Linked DNA regions of Homo sapiens: region 2 is linked to region 1. Evidence: fine-mapped expression QTL. Tissue or cell type: sun-exposed skin. Region 1 holds a variant in brackets; the other region holds the start of a gene. All regions are shown on one strand. Distances are from middle to middle.

Region 1 (8,106 bases):
CATTTCTGATATCCGTGCAGTCATTGATTGCCACTATTTCCAAAATTTTTTCTCATGGCCAATTTTGAACTTAGACATAGTGTAACATTTTCTTCTTTGTTCTTCCTCCAGTCCATGAAGCCATGGTCTGGAGATGCTGGTGAAGCAGATGACATAGGGACACATCTTTATTGCTCTTGACAGAATCATGTGCCTTTTGCAGTTCTTGTTAAAAGCCTGTGACTTTTGCCAATTACAGGAGTTTTATGTATCTGTATCAGATGATGCCCGGATGATTGCTGCCCTCAAGGAGCAACTGCCAGAGTTGGAGAAGATTGTCAAGCAAATGTAAGGAAGGGCTTGACTGTGGGGGTGTGCTTTCATCAAGTAAATCTCAAAAAGTCCTTTGCCCACAAGAAAGGTTAAAGCTGGTCTTTCCATAGCCATGCCCCGCTTGATTTGATTTAAGCAGACTGGGCTGAGGGCATAGGTGGTGCAGTAAGGCCAGAGGAACAGAAGGACTGAGATTCTGTTCATTCTGTGCTAGAGGGCTGCCAAAAGATAGCCTGGGAAAGAAAAGATCCTCCTGGGTGGAGTCCAACTCAATAAACCTGGGTCCCTTAGGTTCAAGGCAGTGAATCTGGCAATAAAATGGCCAGCGGCATTTAAAGAAAGTTTGAGGGCAACTACTTATATGGAAAATTCACTAACTGCTGCCAAAGCTGTTGGTGGTGAATATTTGTGTCCTCTCAATGAACCAGAAGGTTTTCACATGCTATTACTTGAACTATAGATTAAATGCAGTATCAGAGAGTGAGTGTGCTGCTAGATAGACTTTGAAAGCTAGAAATCCTGGCTTTGAACATCGGTTCTGCCAGGAATCTGCCTGTGACAAGAGCTGATATCTTTGCTGTCTACCCTTCTGCTTTGATCTATTACTATTAAAATGAGGAAGCTCATATTGTCTCCTGAAAGGATTCTGTGATTGTGATTTCATTTTCTAACATAAGATTAGTTATATACAAATAAGGCAATTTAATAGTAGCAATGGTATTAAATAATGTGCTTTCTCTACTTCTCGTAGCTCAGAAGATGCAAAGGCACCACAAAAGAAGGTAGGTGGCATGAACTTGCATTCTCTGTCTGTGTCCTGTAGAATTACAATTCCCCAGAAATATTATATTGCAGTATACATAAAAGTGATTTCTTTTTTGTAGACGTGAAATATATTGTCTTCATTTCTTGACTCTGCTTGCTTCTCAGATGTGTCTTCTCTGAGATGCTAGCATGCATTGGTCACTGTCCCTTATGGCACTTGCTGTGGTTGTTTTTACAGCACAAGGTTCTTTTGCAACAGTTCAATACGGGCGATGAGAGAGCCCAGAAGCGCCAGCCTATCCGCGGCTCTGATGAAGGTGAGAACCCTCTTCCAACTAACTCGTAGTTGTATAGATTATTTAGTCAGGATAATGGTAAGCATCACCTTGGACCCACAGAATAGCTTCTTTTGAAGATGCCCTGTTGCCCTCCAGATGGTTTGCTTGGAGGTGCCCTTTGGTGGCCCGATTATTTATGTCCTTAAACTCTTGTGCCTGAAGCCGAGATGCCTGTCTACCTTTCCCTGATTTGGCCTCTCCCTGCTTAACCCCTTTCCTTGGAGGAAATGAAGATGATCTCAGGGCCTGGTTGTCAGGATTGCCCACCCCTGGGAAAAGCTGGTGGGAAGGTAGCTGGCGCCTAGTGGGTGCCAAGGAGACAATGGATCACCAGCATCCTGCCCAGGGACAATGCTCTGGCCCTGAGCCCAGCCCTGAGCAGGGAGGCTTTACATCAGGAAGATCAAGATGCTGGCTTTTGTTTGGTTATTTAAGATTCTCCAAAGAATCACAACCAAAAATAGTCACAATAATAATGATAAAAATTTCATTTAAAGCTATAAATAAATCTTGTCATTTAGGACTGCCTCTAAACCCAGGAATTATAATATAATAATGGGAATTGCTCCCAGGATTTTTGTGTTCAGAGTTGAGCCTCTGGGTGCCATATCCAGATCTGCTGATCTAAGTCTGCTGAGCTAAATAGCATCCGAGCTTACATGGCCTGGCCCCAAAGCACACAAGCCACTGAAGCAAGTGAGCAGGAGTGTCAGCACGTGCTCATGGCCCAGGCGGAAGCCCTCCTGTGTGCAGAGAGGTGAATGGTGTCTCCCCACTGCCACACAGGGTAGCAGTGATCTGTGAATTGCCTACAGTATAGCACTTCAGACCCTGAACATCAGCCTGAAGATACTCTCAATTTTTTCCCATGACCTCTTTGTGGGGTTTTCACCAATATCTCTTGTTCTTTTAATTGGACTTGGCAACCATATGTGCACCTATTCTTAGACCAATGCTAAGGTAAGCAGTTTAGAAGGGGCAGGAATAGGGGTAAATGAGTATGAATAAATACAGTAACAAAAATGGCAAAATGATGCAAATTGGAGAGGATGCCTAAACATTTTTCATAACTATAGTTTTATTGAAAACTCTTAAGAGTGATTTACTACCTTGTTACTGCCTTTGGATAGTTCTGTTTAAGGTCTATTGCATGGACCACACCTACACAACCATTCGGGTGCCAGTGGCCACTTCGGTGAAGGAAGTCATCAGTGCAGTTGCCGACAAGCTGGGCTCCGGGGAGGGCCTGATCATAGTCAAGATGAGTTCCGGAGGAGGTAACAGTCTTAATTCATATTTTAGGCTCTGCAAAATGGGACATTCCATCCAAGCAGAAACTATGTAAGGAGTTAGCGTGGTCATGTGAGGCTCACCCAGAGGATGAACTGGTGCTTATGTATGCTTCCACTAATAACAGAAACAGTATGGGTAGAGGTGGGTTGGGTTTCTAATGTCCCCTATCTGGTAGGTACCCACTCTAAATCAGAAAGGTGACTGGAACTGAGGACTGTCGTGTAGATGTTGGCCTGGAGTTCTTTCAATTTAAACTCTATTCAAAAAAGTTTTAGGCCTTGGAGCCCTGAAAAATATGGGCCCCAAGAGGAAATCTAGCTGGACAAGCTCAAGGCCATGGGTTTCTACAAGTCCAAAGTTGGAAGTGGTCAGAAGCTAGTTCTTTGAAGCTGATGATGGTTTTTCTCCTTACTCAGTAGAGAGGCTAGGAGCCTGGCTCAAATGAAATGAGGAATATTTTTCCTCCACGGGATTACAGTTCCTTTCACTGTCCTTGATTACATGGTGCATTTTTGAAATGTCATTTATTCGTTCATCACATATTTACTGGCCACAGTGTGGCTACGAAGGAAAGAATGAGTTAGACACAGCTCACGTCCCCAGGTTGTTCCCAGGCCAGGGAGGAGGTAGACGGTAAGTTAAAACAATTACAGTTCATGCTGGCAAGAGTTTTAGGAATGACCACATATTGTAGTGAGAGACTAGAGGAAGCAACAGTGAGGTTCATTTCTCCAGTCATGATT[T/G]GACAGCCATTTGGCGGAATCCTTCAGGAACAGGTGAGCCATTTCTGTCATGTTTTAAGGTGAATGATTCCACTGATGGAGGATTTTTAAATGCATGTTGGATTTTAAGATCTCCCTTCCATTTCTGCTCCAGTTGCACAAGGCCCAGGATGTCTGCCCTCCCTGACCCCTTGTCACCTTCCCATAGATATCCCAGGTCTCACCCTCACTTTCTTTCAGTCTTTACCCAAATGTCAGTGTCTCACTGAAGCTCCCTCCTTCATTTGCTTCATTCCCTTTCTAAAATGTTAACTTCTTCCCCTTACACAAGCTTCCTAGACCCCACCCCTGTGATATTTTTTTCTCCTTGCCTTCTCACTCTGTAATCTATTTCTTTTCTTTATTGTTGGCATCTCCCACTATGATGTAATGCTTTTTGGAGTGGGATTTTTTTTCTGTATTGTTCCCTTCTGTCTCCCCAGTGCCTGGAGCAGTTTCTGGCATGCAGTAAATACAAAATAAATGTTTATTAAATGAACTAATTTTTTAATTTTTTTGACATGTTCTCATCTGAAGAACTAATTTTTTTAATGTGGGAGGAGGCTTAATCTAGTTAATGCTATTGCCCTGCAAATTAGGGAATAAGTGAAAAAACAATAGTAAATTTTGCATCTAAAATCATGTGAGGTCTCAGAAACCTCCAAAGTTTTTAAAAAGTGATCTTTCTATGTCCAAAGTCCTGGGTGTGATTACCATCTGGAAACATAACTTGTGAGATAAATAGCCAAGTGCGGGTTTTATGTGCTCAGTAATTATGGTTGCAGCACAAAACTGGGTGAATTGACCCTCTGGCATCTCTATTCCTTTTTGTGGCCATTTCTGAAGGCATCCTGAGTGGCGCAGGGCTGCATGAATGCCGTCTTTTTTATTCCGTGGATCCCTTCAGTACTCTATTTTATGCAGTCACTCTGCGTGTTCCGGTAATTCACCAAGCTGGCAATTTGTTGGTGTGATTAGGGCAGTGCAGCAAATCTCAGATGTATTTAATAGGCAATCTCATGCTTTTTATGTTCACAGAAAAGGTGGTGCTCAAACCTAATGATGTTTCAGTATTTACGACGCTCACCATTAATGGACGCCTGTTTGCTTGCCCGCGAGAGCAATTCGATTCACTGGTAGGTGTGGATGGCCTGCTCAGAGCAGCATTGCAATCAGAAAAACTTGTCTGGAGCCTAATTTTGCAGTCACACTGAACCCAGTGGCTAAAAAATCTTGAATGGTACTTAGCTTTTTCTTTTTCTGCAGTCTATTAGGTAAGCCTCAGGTGTTCATTTGAGATGCTCAGGGCTTTTGATTTTCTTTTGTGAAAATTAGCCAAGTAGCACCACTATTAGGGCATAATTCAGCTTTCAGAACTCTTTGTTGTAATTCGCCTCATTGGTATGTCCCCAGTTTAAATATTAAGAATCTGAATACTTACACCAGGATGGAAATAATTTTTCTAAAGCAAGATATCACTATTTATCAGGCTCCTTTGCATTATGGCAAAGCCACCATCTGATCTAAGAGAAATGCTGTTCCCCAAAAGCACTTTCTCTACCTTATGCAGAAAATGGCAAAGTCCAGACCCTTCCCTAAGTCTCCAAAAACACTTGTTACCCAGCATACAGACAGATCTTTCTGTGAAGAAAAGACTAATAGGACCACACTAATAACTGAGTAGCCTGCTCTCTTTTAAGTCGGTGGTAGCATCCATTTCTATTTCTCCTACCAGAATTTGGTATGTAGGTGAGTAGCTAGTAACATATCTTAGAAAGCCTAGAGGGCCAATTCAGAGGGTAGAGAAACTGGTTTCTTCAGTCTTTGGATACACGGGGTTTCTCCTTTAAGAAAGGCACAAGACCGAGCGTGGTGGCGGGCGCCTGTAGTCCCAGCTACTCAGGAGGCTGAGGCAGGAGAATGGCGTGAACCCGGGAGGCGGAGCTTGCAGTGAGCCAAGATGGCGCCACTGCACTCCAGCCTGGGCAACAGAGCGAGACTCTGCCTCAAAAACAAAGAAAAGAAAAGAAAGGCACAAGACAAGAGCTAGAGGTAAACTGCATCCAATTTTAGGGAGAGAGTTTACATAAGGGATGCATGAGTAGGTTTCAAGTTTGATCAGATCAGCTCTTATAGATATCAAGATTCTCTTCCTTGGACTTTTTAGAGGTTGTTTCAGGCTCATCATAATCCTGATTTTTTGTTTTAGAGAGTACCATTTTGTGCACTCCAGTGAGGATAGGTGGATTTTTACCATATTTTGAATTCACTTGGAGAGGAACTTAGCAAATGTGGCATTAGTTTTCCTGCTAATCCCTCATCCATCAGAGCCCATAAGCACGCTCACCTTTCCTCAATCACCAGCCTTATAAGATCTGAGTCTGCCTCCCGCCTTTCCGTATATTTTTTTAGTCATCTACATTCATTGCTTTCTAAATAAATATTTCTCAATACTGAAGGATTGGGGAAAAAAATGTCATAAATGAGTCGTGCTGCCCTCTCCTGGAAAGGAAAGCCATAAAAAGCCAGTTCAGCGCAGCCCCATTAAAGGTGCTATGTGACATGTTACTGCACGGGTGCTGGGGACTCTCTTGCCAGAGGGTTCTTGGCCGCAGTGCCAAATGACATGGCGCAGACACAGGGAGTGCAGACTGTCTTCAGCTCCCTGTGGGGCAGATACTAACTTTCTAAACCTCTGTTTGTTGGCACACAGTCCTGCAGCCTTCCAAGTTCTTAGTCCTTGCTCGTCCTCTGTTTTAAGGCCTCTGTCGTTGGAAGGAATGTCCTCTGCATTGAGTACCCTGGGCATGAACTTCTTCCCTATCAGCGCTCTGCCATTCATTGTGCTGTGAGTGGCCAAACCTTACCTGCCTCACATAACTGTGGACAATGAGCTCCTTCTCTGGCTTTCTAAAGATTCCCTTTGAGGACAGCCCATCGAGGAGGAGTCGCACAGAGGATGACCCTGCAGTAGAGAATGTTGGCCACACTCTCTGATCCATCCACACATGCTTCTGCAGGGTCTGCTCTGTGCTTGGGGCTGTGCTGGCTTCTGTGAGACACTAAACCAAGTGCCCCAGAGCCTCTGTCCTTACCGCAGTTACGCTAAAGCCAGAGAGATGAGACTAACACAAGCAGCCTGGAATAGAACAAGTCTTAGTGTTCAATGTTAGCCTTAAATTGTGTGGTCTATAATAGAATCAGTAGAGTGCTGGCAAGTTAGCCTAGTGGTTAAGGGTTCAGATTCTGAAACTTTACTCTTCACATTTTATTTAAGTATAAATATCAGTACAGAGCAAATTCCTATAAAACTCCATTGTAGTATAATGTGATTCTACTTTTGTCCATTCACTGGTTCCTCAGACTTTTATTTAGTACCTACCACATCATCGCAGGCATTGTAGATGGTTCTGGCTCTAAAATGGTCTTGAAGACAAAACCATCATGGTCCTTGTACCTCAGTGAGCAAACAGTGTAGTGAGGCACCCCCGCATGTGACCAGTGAGAATGCAGTGCAGCAAGGGCCATAGCAGAGCTAGACACAGAGGGTGTGGGCACACGAGGAAAGGAAGATGCTCCGGGTAGCTTACCTTCACCATCTCTTTGTCACTGACAATCCACACATCCCTTTTATGTCTTAGTCTCCTCATCTGGAAAATGGGAGGATAACAATGCTACTCTCCCAATTACCCCTCTCCAGCCTTAGCAAAGAAATCATGGCTCAAAAACCGTGGGGAGAAAATGCATGGGAGTTCTGTGTCTGTGGGTAAGCAGCTTTCAGATCTGTCTGTGCGATGCAGGCTCCACATAAGCTCTGCTGTGCCTTATCTGTAGGACATTTCCACAGGGCTATGTACAAGAAAATGGCCCAAGGAGGCGCTTCCTCTGGGGTCCAGGGTGAGCATTTATATTCCCCACTTCTAAGGGAGAAGCACCTTTTGCTGCTCACATTGCCTCTTCCGTGGCTCATGGAAGGGGTCAACCTGCCCTACGCCGGGAGAGAGACTTGGTGAGCCCTGCCCACTGAAAGAAAAGTTGAGACTCAACAGAGCTTTCCGTTACTCTCAAAAGGGTTGCAGGAGTGATAGACCAGCATCCACGACTAAAAGAACTTTGCATATTTCTTAATATTAGACTCTTCCCTGTGTTGTTAGGTAAACTTGTCCCCCTTATGTAAAGTTATAAAGCCTCAAGGAAAAGAAGGAGCAAGGTGTACTGGGTATCTCCAATCCTGAGGAGAGAGCAAACAGCAGGAATAACGTAGGAGGGGCAGCTCCGCAGAGCAGCAGAAGGGCTGTGTTCACAGCAGCTGCAAGAGGGAAGGAAGAACGTGCAAGGCCAGTTTGATCCTCTGAGAGGCAGTCGTAAACCCTAAAATGTATAAGCTTCCCCAACTTTTTTTACCTAGGACCTACCCTGGTTGAAATCATTCTCCTCATTTGTTTCCATATGCTACTTGCCCATCAGCTTCGGTTCAGTTCCCTAAGATTTAAAACTTTGGAATCACTTTTCTTCCCTGTCCTCTGTCCCCTGTGTAGAGTAAATTGGGAGCAACAGTATTTCGCTCCTACATCCAGGTGTTGTACTGATCACACTTTTCTGTGTATTTGCATTGCTACAGCACTTCTTTTTTTTAT
Region 2 (8,106 bases), 280 kb before region 1:
TTATAGATGTCGAAGCCCTTTAGCATAAGTGATCTCGACAGCTTATCACCACCAGGTCCCTGTGAAATGCAGAGAGCACCTAGTATTATTTGCACTATATGGAGAATAATAGCTAAGAGTTATTGAACACTCACTATGTGCTTGGCACTTATGCTAAATATCTTACAAATACCAAATTCATGTATAATACTATTAATTTCTCCACTCTACAGATGATGAAACGGAGTCTTAGGCTAAGTAGTTAATTTAAGGCCAAACATTTAGTAGAAGATATGGCTGCAATTTGAACTTGGCTGCCTGCCTTCAAATTCCTAACTTTGAACCTCTGCTCAGATGAACAAAATGGAAATCAGACATTTTAGCAACTCATTCGAGGATCTACATAGCATTAACAGATATTGGTCTTGTCTCATCCTTGTCTCATGGAGATCTTCAGTAGAGATCTTAGTTCTCTAGTAGAGAAAGAATTCACTAAACTATAGGAAGGAGATTAAACAGATAATACCTTTTCCAAGTGAAAAAACAAGTCTCAAAAGATAGTGTAAGTAAATTATAACTGTACACTAGAATATTTGGTGGCCAGGAAAAAATGTTTAAGGATTTTTTAAGGAAAGTAAAGCATTTTTCCATTCCAATAGAAAAAGTAGCCTATAAACTATTAATGCTTTCAAGTCTGTTTGAATACATGTATCTATACACATACATATATGCACACATATACATACACATAGCTAGTTATATGTATGTGTTTGTGGGTACATGTATGATCATATCACTTCTAATTTTTAATTTTTTTTTAATTTTTGTAGAGATGGGGGGGGTCTCACTATGTTGCCCTGGCTGGTCTTGAACTCCTGGCCTCAAGCAATCCTCCTGCCTTGTCCTCCGAAATTGTTGGGACTACAGATGTGAGCCACTGTGCTTGGCCTTGATTGTATCTTTTCATAATAGAAAAGTTTAGAATTAAATGCACTAAAATATTAACAGTATTACCTCTATGTTATGGAATTATGGGTAATTTTTACTTTTTCTCCTATATTTTTCTCTGTTTCCCCCCAAAAGATCAATCATATTATTTTTCCTCTCCATATAGGTTTATTAATATTTTATTTACTTAACATTTTTATTGAGATAATTTGCATACTGTAAAATTCACTCATTTTAACTATACCATTTGATGATTGTTATTAAATTTATAGAGTTGTGTATCCATCACCACAGTTCAATTTTAGATCATTTCTAGAAGATTTCTCAGGCCCATCTGCAGTCATCCCTTATTCCCACCTCCCAGCCTTAGGCAATCCCTAATCTATTTTCCATCTCTATAGATTCGCTTTTTCTGGAAGTTTCACATAAATAGGATCATACAACATATGCTCTTTTGGGACTGACATATATTGTGTTCTTTTAAAGAGAGGGAAATGAATAAATATTCTTTGGTTCTTTGCCTTTCCCATCCAATCCAAGCAAAAGCCTGTTTTCTTCCTCTTAATACTATAATAACTAATTATCAACAGAGTTTCCTTTACTCCTGTAGTTCTTGACCAGCAATCAAATCCCTTTCAGATCACAAGATAATCTATAGGACAGTAAAGCTATTCCTGATGTTTTAAGGATCTCTGTTTTTTAATTCCTCACACATTTCTCTATTTTTACATTAAAAAACTGATTTATAACTATTTTGTTCTTACCCTCTGGACAGTCATTGTAGACATGCCCTATACTCCCATTCTATTGGCAGAAACAGGGACACCATCACTGATGTGGAAGGGTTTGGAATCAGACAGACCCAAATTCCACTCCGGGGCCCCATCTCCTGTAGCTGGGTTATGGACCCTTCCTGAGTTCAGTGTCTTAGTGAGTATCTTGGAGTTACTTGTACCTACCTCCAGGGCTGGATGAAGACATGAGCATGCTCTGGACAAGCTAGTGATTGTTGGTTCTCCTTCGAAAGGATGTTCTTTAAATAAGTCTTCAACTTCTCTTTAGAGAAGAGGCAGGGCCCCCACACAGCAAAACAAAGGCCTTGCAGTTCATCAGAGCTACACTCCTTAAAATGCACTGTGGACTCCTCGAGGGTCTCACTCTCACTCCCAGCAGCTCATCAGTGTCTTCCTTCCAATCCAATTAACACTCTCCCTGAAAGTACTGATACATATCATTTTCAATATTTCACTACATTTTCAAGGATATTTATTGCTGTTTGTGGAGTAGTGTCTTTCTGGCTCTGCCTCATAGAGTGTTCTGAAGATTAAATGGGATCACACATGTAAGGAGTACTGCACAGGGTCTAACACTCAGTGGATGTTCAATAAATGGCGACTATTATTAGTATCATAACCAAAGCTATGGCAACTCTGAGCCTCTGTGTGATGACAGGTGATGTGCAGCTCCTTTCTCCTCTAGCTCCTTACCTGGAAACCTTCTTTGCAGAAAGGCATTTTCAGAAAGCTTTTGGTGACCTTGAAACATTCTCAGGTGCTCTCTGATGTCTTTATAAATGAAACTTAATATATATAGGAGATACAGTTCCTCCTTCATACCTGTATAGTAAAAAAGCCACAACATAAATACCTTTGGTTAATCTTTCTATAGTATATTATTTTAAATATTAGCATAAACATGATAGAAATTAACAGAATGAAGGTTAACTGGGGGAAAAGCCCTGAGCAGGGAGGGAGGAGTTGCTGTGGGAACACTGTGGCAGGTCTGAAACTAGATCCTGGCTATCCAGCAGAGGGAAATGGCACATATTTGGAGGCTTTTATATCATGGTAATAATTGTTTTATTAGGATCAAAGCATCCCAGAAAGCACTTGCTCTTTCCTTCTCTCCAGTCCCCCTGACTCTCCCCTGAGCAGGGTTGGATAGGAGGTTTGGTGGGGGGAGGAGGCAGGGAACAGTAGAAGAAAGCAATGCTATGTCCCTTTCCCCCATTGTCTGGCCCCAAATGTAGTGCCATAAATATCAAAACAGTGCTTGGTAATAGTCCAAAACATTTAACTTGTCCGCAAATTCCTAAACAACCATTGGCGTGTAATTTGGTTCTTGGCAGAGTGTAACTGAATAACTTGTAGACATGACATTTGTGTGAACATCTACAAGAGACAGGCCGTTATCACCACCCATTCAACACTCCAGCCAGAGGAAGAACAGCAAGGGGGCCAGCCATACAAGTTCACCTGCGCGTCCGGGGTCTCGGTTCTGCTGTGGCCCGGCTACTCCCCATTCTCAACTGTGTTTTCTTCACCATGCAGGTGATGGAAGCCCAGGCAGGCCCAGGGTTCAAGGCCAGTGACTTCAGCCTGTCACCCCCTCAGACCACATCGGGCCCACCGGCCTCCTCCCTCCCTGCCCCTCAGCCCTGCCCGCACTGCCCCCCATTGCGCCCAGCCCTTCCTCACCCCGCAGGAGAAGCTGGCCTCTCATTCCTCACTGAGAGACTCGACGGGCGTCCCCACGCCAAGCCTTCCTCGCCCTCCCCTCCAGCCTTTTCTGAAGGGGAGACAGCAAAGGTGAGCAAGCAACCGCCGGCAAGTTTCGACAGCTGCTGAGGAAGACTCATGGGTTTCTAAGGAAACAGAGAGGCAGCAGCCATTTTAGTAGCATTTGCTGTATGAAAAATATATAGACACTGGCAGCCCTCTCCCCACTCTGCCTTGGCGCCTGCCCTCCCGCCCCGCCTCAGAGGCCCCGGGGTGAGGGTGGGGCCCCAGTCTCCGAGGGACGCAGCGGACACCTGTCGCAGGTGGCCGGCCACCGGGGTCGCCACCCCCAGTGTCCCCCAGCAGCGGGACCGCGGGGTCCCCACCCCGGGGCGGAATCCCCACCCACGGGCGCCGCAGTGCAGCGGCGGGCGGGCGGGCGACTCGGCCCTCCCCGCACCCGCGTCCCGCCCCCCGGGTCCCCTCCCTCTCCCCACCGCCCCAGGCCGCGGGAGCCCGCGGGGAGGGCGGGCCTGTCGCAGCCGCGCTGGTCGCCAGGCGTCCGGGAGGAGCGGGGTCCGCGCGGCGGACGAGGCGGGGGCGGAGGCGCAGGCAGAGCGAGCGCGGGAGGTCGCCGCAGCCAGGGACACCGCGCGCCGCCGCTCAACATGGTCGCTGCGCACGCTGCCCATTCTTCCTCCTCTGCCGAGTGGATCGCCTGCCTGGATAAAAGGTAGCTCGCCGGGGGCCGCAGCCGGGGGCCGAGCTCTGCGGTGCTGCCCGGGCCCTGAGACCGCCGCAGCTCCGCACCTGGGCGCAGCGCGGCCGGGCTGCGGGTGGCCGGGGTCCCCGAGCGGGGGAAGGGGTTGAGGTCCTCGTCCGGGAGACAGGAGGACAAGGATCCCCGCCTCTCGTGGGGTGCCAGCGGCATGAGATTATTACACGTGGTGGAGAAAATGCAGCGCAGTAAGGGGAGAGAGCACCCACCTCTCCAACCCCCTGCCCTGCCGCGACTCCAGGCTCCGCTCCTGGGTGGGGGTTTATTTTCTCTTGGCATCACGGGACAGAAGAATCGATGCATACCCTTTCCGGCTATTCAGACCTTGCGGGGTATGAAGTTTTAAAGAGGGGTGGGGGCACCGGCAGGTGCAGAGTAACATTCTTTTTTTGTTCTTGAAAGCAAAGTGTGAGGGACCCGGTGGAGCTGTCGAATCCCTTGCTGAAATTCACAGCTCTCTGCCCCCGCAGTCGCTCGCTCAAGGTCTGTGTTAGAGAAGGTCATTTGGGAGGCTGCTTTCGTCTTAATACCTGCTTCTCGGGAAAAGATCTTTACGCTAAAAATAATTAAAACCATAAAGCATGTAACTCCCGACGACAGCTCTCTCTAAGGAGGATGTGTGTGTTAACAGTGGATTGCAGTTGTTTCCAGGCTGTGACAGCATAATTTTCTGTTTGTCCAGATTGCAGGTTTAAACGTTACACAGTATGTTAGCAATTATAGCTTATTACCCTGATTAAAAGGTGATGCATCTGAACTTTTAAGAACTGAGCAAGAAATCTTGCAGAGTGAACTGCCTCTGAATTTCGGAGTTTGATGCAGAAGGGCAATGATGCACGTCTTGCAGCTATCTGCATGACATCTCTATTTGCATTTGTGTGAAATATTTTGTGCTCTGCCATATTGAAAAATTTTCAATTAACAGATTCGTAACCAGATCAAACTTGAAAATCTTAAGTGTGACGTGCTTTGCATACTCTATTATAGGCCTTTGTTGAAAAATATTAAGTAATTTGAGAAAAGCTAAATGTAGCTCATTTGAAAAGCTTAATATATCTGAGAAATAATCTTGACTTTCAATTACCACTCAGTAGCAAGATTTTTTGGCAGGTAGTGCCCTATTTATGTCTAAAATGATATGTACTAATATTAAAAGAGTTGCATGCAATAAATAGTAAGAGAATTAAAGTAATAGTTAAATCACACAGGATTATGTAGAAGAACTAAGAGTATTTAAAGTATAGAGGTTGTTAATGTGATAAGTATCTACATTTAATAGTTCAGGAAAAAGGAATTATATGGGATTCAGGATCTTGCACTTAACCTATAAATAGTAGTGCTTCCTTATGAGCAAAATTTTTAGATAATAACATATTTCTATGTGTAGAAATGCATGGCATGGCATTTTTTGAACAGTCGGTAATTCACTGGAAACCCGTTAGTCAATAAGAAGTACTTATGGCAAAATCATAGAGCAATACTAACACAAGTGGGACATATTCGACTCTCTCTTTTCATAATGTGTATCTGCCTAAATGATTTTGCTTGAAATGGATTTTTTAGAGCATGGTGCCCCCATTTAATGCCACCATTCATAATGGGAAAAAAATCTAGGAAAAAAAAAAAAACCCTTCACAGATACTGAGCCTAGCATCAGAAGAGTCAGATGAGTGGATAGATCAATAAGTTAAGGGTTTTAGGCACAGAGCTGTTACCAGTTCTGATATTGGACATGTCACTTTTACTTCCTTGAGTGTCTGAAAAATGAGGATAGGACTATCAGGGATAAGTGGACAAATGGAAGGAGAAAAAAAAGGTGAAATAGTTTGAAAACTGTGAGTGCCATGTAGGCTTTTTGTTTTGTGGTATTAAAAGAACTTTGCATGTTCTGCAGTGTTCATGCCAGAATTAATTCCAATGAGGAACAGTTTAGGGCAGCAATCTCATTGTATGAAGGCCATGGGGGGACTTGTTTTGAAGTTGTGTTTTTACTTAGATTGTTTATTTATTTATTTTTTTTAGGAAAGGAGAAAGGTTGAGAGTGTTTATGGAAGTTGGCTAGGGAAGCCCCCTGAAACACCTGTTTAGTGGAGACACTGCCCTCAATGTTTCTGAGAAATGCTGTCTTGATCCTCTTTTCCAGGCACTGTGAAATGCTATCTTGATCCTCTTTTAAATGCTATCTTGATCTTCTTTTCCAGGCACTGTGCTGGGCACTGGGGATGCAACAAAATATGAGAGTTGCTTGTAGGCTTAGAGGGTAGGGGAGATTGGTGGTGGGACGGCTCTATAAACAGCTAACCACAATGCAATAGTAAGTGCTTTAATGGAGATGTATAAAGTGCTTTGGGAATGCAGATGAGAGAGTTATCGAGATACTTCCATAGGTGTCCTGCCTAGAACTCAGAGGCTGAGAACAATTTTACCAGGCACAGAATAGGGAGGGCATGCCAGGGAGTGGTGTGGCATATGAATATGCTAATTTCTTCCCAACCACAAATTCCTCTTGTGACCAAATCTAGAGTATAGGAATGTATGCTCTATTTTTATAAAATCTTTTTTATTATGGACATTTTCAACCCTGCACAAAAGAGAAAGTACAATGAACCCATGTGGGTTCACTTGGGAATATGATGCTGGGACCTTTCAACTGGGAAAAGGACGTAACTGGGAAACACAGTTCAAATATATGCCTCATTCAAGTGACAACTGTTGTGGATGGTGAAAAAAAGAGAAACCCTGGGACTGGAAATAAAAAGAGAGTTAAAAGAGAAAGTCTGCAGTAGTAAAGAAGTATACAATGAAATTTGAAGTGAAACAAAACACAAGGAAAATAGAGCCTTAAAGTGTTTGTTAGGAATGCCTAGAAAGCTATCATAGACAGGACAATATTTGCAAGTGGGGAAGGGTGTTGCAAGTGTTGTAGATATGTAGATTAGATTAAAGAAACAAAATCTATAGCTTTTTATGTATCAATCATCCACCATCTTGGACTATGGTGGGACTGAGGAGATGAGGGTCTACAAATACTAATCTTAAAACCAGAAAGACAGGACATTGAACATTTGGATGGATAAACCAACATTGAAAAAAGTCTCAGCAGATGTATTGTTAGAGTAAAACAAGCTCACCACTATCTCAGGGATCTTACCATTTTTTTCTGAGGGGATGGCAACTAGGAACAAATTACATAGTTCCCACTATTTGGGACTTAAGATAGGTAAAATGTCCTTTCTTTTTTTTTTTTAAGTGTGCTGACCATTGTTTAAGTTTTTTTGTTTTTGTTTTTGTTTTTTGAGATGGAGTCTCACTCTGTCACCCAGGCTGGAGTGCAACGGTGTGATCTTGACTCACTGCAACCTCCCCCTCCTGGTTTCAAGTAATTCTCGTGTCTCAGCCTCCCGAGTAGCTGGGATTACAGGCACACACCACCATGCCTGCCTAATTTTTGTATTTTTATAGAGACAGGGTTTCACCATGTTGGCCAGGCTGGTCTTGGACTCCTGACCTCAGCTGATCCGCTCGCCTTGGCCTCCCAAAGTGCTGGGAATACAGGTGTGAGCCACCACACCCGGCCCATTGTTTAATTTTAATGAAAATATTTTTCCCGTAAGATTTTAAATTTGCCAACTGTGAACTTCAGATCCACTTATAAGTCCTAGTTCTCAGGGTTGGTAAAGGAGTATTATGAAGGGACAGGGACCATACACATTCATGTAGTATAGCGACTCATTGCTGGCATTCATCATGATGGGACAGGCATTGACAAGCTATGGCCTGTGGGCCAGATCTGACAGCTTGCCCGTATGTCTCGTGGGCTAAGAATGGTTTTCACATTCCTGAATGGTTGGAAATAAATCAAAAGAAGATCAGTATTTTGTGACCCATGAAATTTAGATGAAA

What was found. PIP is the estimated chance that this variant, and not a neighbour inherited with it, causes the effect.
Region 2: it holds the start of RAPGEF4, and the variant in region 1 is fine-mapped to the expression of RAPGEF4 in sun-exposed skin (GTEx, PIP above 0.99). The same link has a PIP of 0.9 or more in unexposed skin.

The regions. Positions count from the first base shown.
Region 1 is chr2:173,016,111-173,024,216 of GRCh38, forward strand. RAPGEF4 (Rap guanine nucleotide exchange factor 4) reads left to right here. Exons shown (of 31, transcript NM_007023.4): 19 at 239-327; 20 at 1,064-1,094; 21 at 1,316-1,394; 22 at 2,546-2,692; 23 at 4,508-4,605. Among named protein-coding and RNA genes, the nearest start is that of MAP3K20, 56 kb to the right of the region's middle. The variant T/G (reference allele first, on the strand shown) is at 3,452.
Region 2 is chr2:172,731,891-172,739,996 of GRCh38, forward strand. It overlaps RAPGEF4 (Rap guanine nucleotide exchange factor 4), which reads left to right and starts at 3,955. Exons shown (of 31, transcript NM_007023.4): 1 at 3,955-4,158. The coding sequence starts at 4,094. It overlaps RAPGEF4-AS1 (RAPGEF4 antisense RNA 1), which reads right to left and starts at 4,316. Exons shown (of 4, transcript NR_026995.1): 1 at 4,236-4,316; 2 at 3,405-3,571; 3 at 2,415-2,543.